2 linked regions of the Homo sapiens genome follow. The protein of the gene in region 1 purifies or fractionates together with the protein of each later gene. This does not show direct contact. Each region holds a gene or a part of one and is shown on either strand. Other genes may lie near its edges.

Region 1 (5,413 bases):
ACCTTTTCTTTTATAATTTTGATATTTACTTAAACAGTGAAACACATTACTTACGGCATTCTCTCTGTAACATTATATATGGCAGTAGTTCCCAACAGTGGTGAAGTCAGTAATAATTATTCAAATATTGAATTAGGCAGGGTTCTTTCTTCTTTTTATCATTAGAGCAAATTTCCATAATAATACTATCACTCTTGAATCACATATGTTCTCTTAAATGAGCGGGAGTGTAGAAGTAGTTGATGTGTTGGTAATATGTATAACACTGAAGTCCCATTGGAGTGTAAATTCCTTGATTTGATACTCGATTTTAAAATGCGAATAAATATTAAAATAGCTTACAGTGTAATTTTCAGGTTTTGTCCTGAATATTTTTTCTTGAAACATTGGAGTTCACTTAGGGATTTAACAAATTCAGCTTTTTAAACCAGTATTCTATCACTAAGGTTCTAAAATCTTTGTCAGAAAACTTGCATATTGAGTGATACGTGGTAAGAATTATGAATCACATTTTTATGAATTTCTTTTTTTTTTTTTTTCCCCAAGACAGAGTCTCGCTGTGTTGCCCAGGCTGGAGTGCAGTGGTGTGATCTTGGCTCACTGCAATTTCCACCTCCTGGATTCAAGCAATTCTCCCTGCCTCAGCCTCCTGAGTAGCTGAGATTACAGGCACCCGCCACTATGCCCAGCTGATATTTGTATTTTTTTAGTAGAGATGGGGTTTCACCATATTGGCCAGGCTGGTCTTGAATTCCTGACCTCAGGAGGAGGCAGGAATCCTCCTGCCTTGGCCTCCTAAAGTGCTGGGATTACAGGCGTGAGCCACCACTCCCAGTCTCTTTTAGCATTTTTTGCATTTCTTTAGAAATAAAGTAATATATTCATTAAACTATCAAAAAAAAACCCTTACTAAGAGTGAGTGAAAGAGTCGTCTTTACATTACTGAAAACTTCTGTGTTTCAGAAATCTGTGGACCGAAGCATACAAACGGTGGTATCTTGTCTGTTTAATCCAGAGAACAGACTGAGAAACTCTGTTGTTACTCAAGATGACTACTTCAAGGTATGAATATAACAGTTACGCACAATTAAAAAGCACACTTGTTAGCTTTAAAGTATCTGTTTTCCTTGTGGTATATGTATTTTGAGATTTCTTAGAGCATTTAATTAACTGTTGGCATTTGACTATAACACAGTAAACCAGAGTGGGTTTTACCTGGCAGTATATTTTCTGCTGCTGAACCTTGACATAATGTAGTTATCTTTAGGGAAGAATCCTTCAGCAGAAATTTGTAATTGAAAGGGTTAACTAGAGAAGAGTTAGTTGACTGGCTTGACCAAATAGTAAAAGAAAATTTTAGATACAGAAAGCAGATCTTGGCTGGGTGCAGTGGCTCACGCCTGTAATCCCAGCACTTTTGGGGGCTGAGATGGGTGGATTGCTTGAGCTCAGGAGTTCGAGACCACCCTGGGCAACATGGCAAAACCCCATCTCTACAAAAAATACAAAACTTAGCCAGTTGTGATGGTGCACGCCTGTAGTCCCAGCTACTTCAGAGGGAGGCTGAGGTAGGAGGATTGCTTGAGCCTGGGAAGTTGAGTCTGCATTGAGCCATGATTGTGCCACTGTACTCCAGCCTGGGCAACAGAGTGAGACCTTGTCTCAAAAAAAAAAAAAATACATGCATATTGGACTATAGAGAAGAAAAGAAATGGTTTACTCAGAAGATATACCTGAACAGTGTGAAGGGAGAAAAGGGGTAAAGTGAAGCAGTAAAATGTTGAGTAGAAAGAATTGGAGGTTGATTCAGACAGAGTTGGTAAAGTGGAAGAGAATGTGGGTAGTTGAATTCCAGAAAAATCTGATTTCTGATCCCGCCGTCTATCCATGTTGGATAGATAAATCTTATTAAGACTCCAGTTTTTACAAGTCTAAAATGAGAAGGTACAGGACTAAAGGTTTCTGGGTCCCTGTAGTTCTAAGTCTATGAATAGGAAAAAGAACTAACTTGGTCAGTCCAATGGGAGAGAAATATTACGGTTAGTAAAGGGAAGGTGTTTTTTAAATAATAGGTTTATTGAAATATATAATTGAGATACCAGTAATACAATTTACCTATTTAAAGTTTGCATTTCACTGGTTTTTCATATATTCAAAGTTGTGTAACCATGACCACAATCAATTTTAGAATACTTAAATCACCCCAAAAATCACCCCCCTACCTTAGCAGTCACCTGCTATTTTCCCCCATCCTGTGCAGCCCTAGGCAACCACTAATTTACTTACTTTCTCTAAGGATTTTCCTGTCCTGGACATTTCATGTATATGGAATCATACATAATGTGGCCTTTTGTGACCGGTTTTTTCAGTCAGCATAATATTTTCAAGGTTCATCAATATTCTAGCACGTATCAGAACTTCATTTCTTTTTATTTGTGGCTATTATTCATTCTGTTTATCCATTCATCTGTTAAAGACATTGGGATTATTTCCTCTTTTTAACTGTTAGAAATAATGCTGTGAACATTCATGTACAAGTTATTACGTGGACATATGTTCTTATTTCTCTTGCGTATATACTTGGGAATGGAATTGCTAAGTCATATTTAACCTTCAGTGGAACTGCCAGAATTTGTCAAAACTGGCTACACACTTTACATTCAAAAGGAAATGTTTAACCATCACTTTGTGTCTTAAAACAGAAAGACTAGCTTTTTTTTCATCTGTGAATGGATATAGGATGAAGCTTAAGCCTTTTTAAGGGGTTATTATTATGGATCTCCTGTATAATGTAGAAGAGTAGAGCCGTATAGCAGAATTAAGTTCTTAACATCTTCGCAACAGGGAGTAAACATACTTAAAGTTGACATTTGTTCTCTTGTTGCTTCATTCTACATAGATAGTATAATTTAGAAAAGAAGGAACTGAAATTGTATATCAGCTTACTTTGCCCAAAGTTCTGATGATTACATAGGTGTCTACAGTAGTACTTAAATGATTTTCAAAGCAGAAGATAGTCTTCTGTGGTTTTTTGTTTTTTTGAGGTGACCTCATTTAGTCACCTAGGCTGGATTGCAGTGTAACAATCACAGCTTACTACAACCTCAAACTCCTGACGCAAGGGATCCTTCTGCCTCAGCCTCCCAAATAGTTAGGACTACAGACATGCACCGCTACACTTGGCTAGTTAAAAAGATTTTTTTTTTTTTTTTAAGAGACAGAATCTTACTATATTGCCCCTGGCTGGTCTTGAACTCCTGGGCTCAAGTGATCCTCCTACCTCAGCCTCCCAAAGTGCTGGGATTACAGGCGTGAGCCACCATGCCCAGCCCAGAAGGAGTTTTGAAACTTGAGTTCTCACCTGGTATTAGACAAAAGACTCCCTTTAAACTCCCAGAGTTTTCTGCTTGTTTGGGAGACGAATCAGAAGTTGGCATCCTGTGGTTGTCTGACATCTAGACCTATTTTGATTGACTGCATGTTGTTGTATTGAATTTGAATGCATGAGGTATTTTTGAATGTATTTACTATTTCCATAGCTAATTCCACTCTTCACTGTCTTGATTCTGTAGTCCCTTCATAATCTTGTTTCCTGCGTGACCTGTGAAGATACATGTTGGTGACCAGTTTTCTAGATTTTAACTTAAATAGGATATCACTCTTTTGACAGATTAGGTAACTTCCAGAAGCCACTTTTATTTATATGACAGTGAAACTGAGGTCCTAGGAAAAGGGCACAGTTAACTTTGTAGAAAATAAAATGCTATTATGTTATTACTCATTTGCTTAGTCCCATTTCTCCTTTTAAGGCCTCTCACTTTTTTCTCTCTGCACATCTGTAGGCAACATAGAGTGAAAAGAAAGTTTTGCATGTATTTAAATTTTTTCTCTTTCTTTCTAAAGAATAATACATCTTCACAGGTTAATGATATGTCTTTAAATGCCAAAACTTACATCTTTTAACCTAAAAACATGAAATTTCAGATTGGAGAGCTGTTCACAAGCCGTGGTTCCTATTAGATGCAGTTCAGTCAGTGAAAACAGTATTTTTTAGAATTACATTTTCTACCAGCTGTCTTTGGGACATTACTGCAAAATCATTAATTAAGAAGTACATAAAATGATATTGAGTCTAAGTCCTGTTATTTCTGAGTTTAATGGGATTTCTTTTTTTTTAATTGATTTCTTTTTTAACTAAACTGTTTAATAAAACTAGCCATCCTGGTATATATGTTATCCCAGTGTTCAAGAATGCTTCTCAAAAAGAATAATCTTTTTTCTCATTATTTATAATGTTTAAACCCAAAACAAATGGTTTAAGTTTTTGACAACTTTCAGATCTATAGTAGTAATCAGAAATTTTCAGTAAAGTAAAAGGACTCTTTCTGTCTTTTCCAGGATAAAAGAGTGCATCACTTTAGAAGAAGTCGGGCAATGCTTAAATCTGTTTGATCCTCCTGGCTTATCTAGTTACATGGGAAGTTGCTGGTTTTGAATATTAAGCTAAAAGGTTTCCACTATTATAGAAATTCTGAATTTTGGTAAATCACACTCAAACTTTGTGTATAAGTTGTATTATTAGACTCTCTAGTTTTATCTTAAACTGTTCTTCATTAGATGTTTATTTAGAAACTGGTTCTGTGTTGAAATATAGTTGAAAGTAAAAAAATAATTGAGACTGAAAGAAACTAAGATTTATCTGCAAGGATTTTTTAAAAATTGGCATTTTAAGTGTTTAAAAGCAAATACTGATTTTCAAAAAAATGTTTTTAAAAACCTATTTTGAAAGGTCAGAATTTTGTTGGTCTGAATACAAACATTTCACTTCTCCAACAAGTACCTGTGAACAGTACAGTATTTACAGTATTGAGCTTTGCATTTATGATTTCTCCAGAAATTTACCACAAAAGCAAAATTTTTAAAACTGCATTTTTAATCAGTGGAACTCAATATATAGTTAGCTTTATTGAAGTCTTCTTATCTAAACCCAGCAAAACAGATTCAAAGCGAACAGTCCAATCAGTGGGTCATATGTTTATTCAAAATATTTTATCTTTTAGCTAGAATCCACACATATATATCCTATTTGATTAGGGTAGTAATTAGGATAACTAAAATTCTGGGCCTAATTTTTTAAAGAATCCAAGACAAACTAAACTTTACTAGGTACATAAGCTTCTCAATGAGTCACCATTCTTCTTTTTTGTAAAAACTTTTTTCTTTGAAATGCTAAACTTGGCTGTATGTCAAATTGTGCAAAATATTGGTATTAAAGAATGCTGCAACTTTTTTATGTCTCTTAGAGGTTAATCAGAGTATCTGAAGGGAATTGTTTTTATAAAAACATTGAAATATTAGTTACTTGCTATAAATAGATTTAGTCTGTTATATTTCCTTTTGTAAAGTAAAATAT
Region 2 (3,500 bases), on another chromosome or scaffold:
CCAATTACTGTGTTCCAGCAACTTGAACTTCCCCCATTTTTCCCAAACACACCAGGCATGTCTCAGCCTCAGGGCCCTGGCATTGCCTGTTCTCTCTGCCTGGAATGCTCTTCCTCCTCTTCTTTCTTTGGGTCTCAGTTGAAACATCCTCCCTGTCCTCTCTCATCTAAATTTGTCCTCCCCCCACCACCCCTATTACTCTTTCTCAAAGCACTTCTCCTAACTAGGAATTAGACACATTTTAGCACTGTTATCTGAATCACATTATTAATTATAGTCCAACCCAACAACGAAACTCTCTGCAGGTGTTTAAAAAAATGGTGGGTCAGGTGCAGTGGCTCATGGCTGTAATCCCAGTGCTCTGGAAGTTCAAGGCAGGAGGATCAAGGGAGCCCAGGAGTTTGAGACCAGCCTGGACAATACAGCAAGACTCACCCCCGTCCTCCACCGCCACAACCTCTACAAAAAAAAAAAAAAAAAAAATTAGCTGGGTGTGGTGGTGCACACCTGTGGTCCCAGCTACTCGGGAGACTGAGGCTGGAGGATCACTTGAACCCAGGAGTTAAAGGCTGCAGTGAGCTATGATCACACCACTGCACTCCAGCCTGGGCTACAGAGCAAGACCCTGTCTCTAAAAAAAAAAAGAGAAAAAGATGGACATATATATTTATTTCCCAGAAACGGTGGTGACTGGTGAGTATTGTAAAATGGGGGACAGAAAAGTCTATTTACAAAGCAGGGAATATTGTGTGACCTTGTTTCATTGTGTGTTTATCAATGTCCTGGAAGCATGGTAGGGAAGTCCACCTCTCAAATGCTCAGTGGGTGACCTGTCACCAGGGACTGGGGAAGAGGCTGGGGCGTGGTCATCAGCAATTCTCCCCCTTATGTCTGCTGTATCTATTTTTCCTCCCTCCCTCCCTCCCTCCCTCCCTTCCTTCCTTCCTTCATTCCTTCCTTCTTTCCTTCCACTCTCCCTCCCTCCCTCTTTCCTCCCTCCCTCCTTCCCTTCCTTCCTTTCCTCTTTCTTTTTCTTGTTAAGTGAGGTTTTTGTTTGTGGGTTTGTTTTGAGATGGGGTCTTGCTGTGTTGCCCAGGCTGGAGTACAGTGATGCAATCATGGTTCACCACAGCCTTGACCCCCCCGGGCTCCAGCAATCCTCCCACCCTCGGCCTCCCAAAGTGCTGGGACTACAGGTGTGAGCCTTTGTGCCCAGCCTCTATTTTCTGTTTCTTCTAATTAACCTCTTGATAGATAGGGGTCATTGTCTTCTGGCTTTTGTTTGGGACAGTGAGTTGAGACAGTGAGTTGTGAGAGTGTATGCCTCCATTAGAAATAACTAATTAAAGCTGGGCGCGGTGGCGCACGCCTGTAATCCCAGCATTTTGCGAGGCTGAGGCAGGCGGATCACAAGGTCAGGAGATCAAGACCATCCTAGCTAACATGGTGAAACCCCATCTCTACTAAAAATACAAAAAATTAGCCAGGCGTGGTGGCGGGTGCCTGTAATCCCAGCTACTCGGGAGGCTGAGGCAGGAGAATGGCGTAAACCCAGGAGGCGGAGCTTGCAGTGAGCCGAGATCGCGCCACTGCACTCCAGCCTGGGCAACAGAGCGAGACTCCGTCTCAAAAAAAAAAAAAAAAAAGAAATAACTAGTTTAAAAATGAACAAAATAGATAAAGCAGTTTGAGAGTGAATGGGGGGCAGGGTCTGATTAATATAATTTTGTGCACCTGGGGTTCTCCAGAAAAAAAAATCACATCAGCCATTGTCATGTCCATAATAATGATTTTTAAAATCACAGCCAGGCCAGGCACGGTGGCTCACGCCTGTAATCCCAGCACTTTGGGAGGCCGAGGTGGGCAGATCACTTGAGGTCAGGAGTAGGAGACCACCCTGGCCAACATGGTGAAACCCCGTCTCTACTAAAAATGCAAAAATTAGCCGGGCGTGGTGGCGGGCGCCTGTAATCCCAGCTACTCAGGAGGCTGAGGCAGGAGAATCACTTGAACCTGAGAGGCGGAATTGCAGTGAGCCGAGAGCGCACCACTGTAATCCGGCCTGGGTAACAGAGCAAGATTCCATCTCAGAAAAATAAATAAATTAATTAAGAAATAAATCATGTCCATGCTGGGCACGGTGGCTCACGCCTGTAATCCCAGCACTTTGGGAGGCTTGAGGGGGGTGGATGATCTGAGGTTGGGAGTTCGAGACCAGCCTGACCAACATGCTGAAACCCCGTCTCTACTAAAAAAAATACAAAGATTAGCCGTGCATGGTGGCTGGCGCCTGTAGTCCCAGCTACACGGGAGGCTGAGGCAGGAGAATTGCTTGAACCTGGGAGGCAGAGGTTGCAGTGAGCCGAGATCGCGCTACTGCATTCCAGCCTGGGTGACAGAGTGAGACTCCGTCTCAAAAAAAAAAAAAAAAAAGAAAGAAAGAAATCATGTCAATGTATTTGACAGTTTTCTCTTCTTTTTTTCTCTCCCATGGGGCTAGGAGCTGTGAGGGTACTTGCTGATGAATCAGATTTGGGTTGAGGGATTAGATTTGGGGGTAAGATCCTGGGTGGATATTGGAGGTCCAACACCGTCTGAGACACAGAGGAGGTTTTCACAGGCCTTTTCCATCCCTCCATGACATGGGTTTCCCAAGGGCAAGGATGGACCAAACTCCACCCACACCCCACCCTGGGATGGGGCCTGGCCCGCGGCAGGCAGCTGGAGATATTTTGGGCAGCTGCCATAGCGCCCAGTCCTGACTGACCGCGCAACACCGTCACACAGGCAAAAACACCCAGGGACAGACAGAAGGCCATGCAGTGCCGCCCCGCTGCACAGCCTCAGAGATGAAACCAGCCAGAGGGTGACACAGGCCACTGTCACATTCTCAGCAACGTTCAGGAGGGAGTCTCAGAGAATTACAGTGAAGGTCGTAGAACCACATACCCATCACAGCGCAGCACAAACACACGATATCACACTCAATCCCTCAGAGCAGGGCACAGGTAGACACACCCACACAACATCGCGGTGACACACAAACATCCTGCCAGAGCCAGACGCATCCCTGAGGCCCCATCAGGTCACAGCCGGAGTCACAGTGTCACATGCACCTGTCAAATAATAAGCACGTCATCCTGGGCCGGGTGCGGTGGCTCACACTTGTAATCCCAGCACTTTGGGAGGCTGAGGTGGGTGGATCACGAGGTCAGGAGTTCAAGACCATCCTGACCAACATGGAGAAACCCTGTCTTTACTAAAAATACAAAATTAGCCAGGTGTGGTGGCGGGTGCCTGTAATCCCAGCTACTCGGGAGGCTGAGGCAGGAGAATCGCTTGAGCCTGGGAGGCGGAGGTTGCAGTGGGCCGAGATCGCGCCATTGCAATCCAGCCTGGGCAAGAGAGGGAGACTCTGTCTCAAAAAAAACCCCAAAAAATCAAAAAACCAAAAAAAAAAAACCTTATCCTACAGACACATAGGGATATACCCGAAGTCT

What was found. The genes of interacting proteins can lie anywhere in the genome.
Region 2: the proteins of DAZL (region 1) and ELAVL3 purify together in Homo sapiens (affinity purification with mass spectrometry; one large-scale study listed by BioGRID and IntAct). This does not show direct contact.

What each region holds. Positions count from the first base shown.
Region 1 is NC_000003.12:16,587,699-16,593,111, reverse strand, and holds part of DAZL (deleted in azoospermia-like), read left to right. Parts: intron 1-963; coding exon 964-1,062; intron 1,063-4,398; coding exon 4,399-4,452; 3' UTR 4,453-5,413. UniProt on the Homo sapiens protein: RNA-binding protein, which is essential for gametogenesis in both males and females. Plays a central role during spermatogenesis.
Region 2 is NC_000019.10:11,460,547-11,464,046, forward strand, and holds part of ELAVL3 (ELAV-like protein 3), read right to left. Parts: intron 1-3,500. UniProt on the Homo sapiens protein: RNA-binding protein that binds to AU-rich element (ARE) sequences of target mRNAs, including VEGF mRNA. May also bind poly-A tracts via RRM 3. May be involved in neuronal differentiation and maintenance.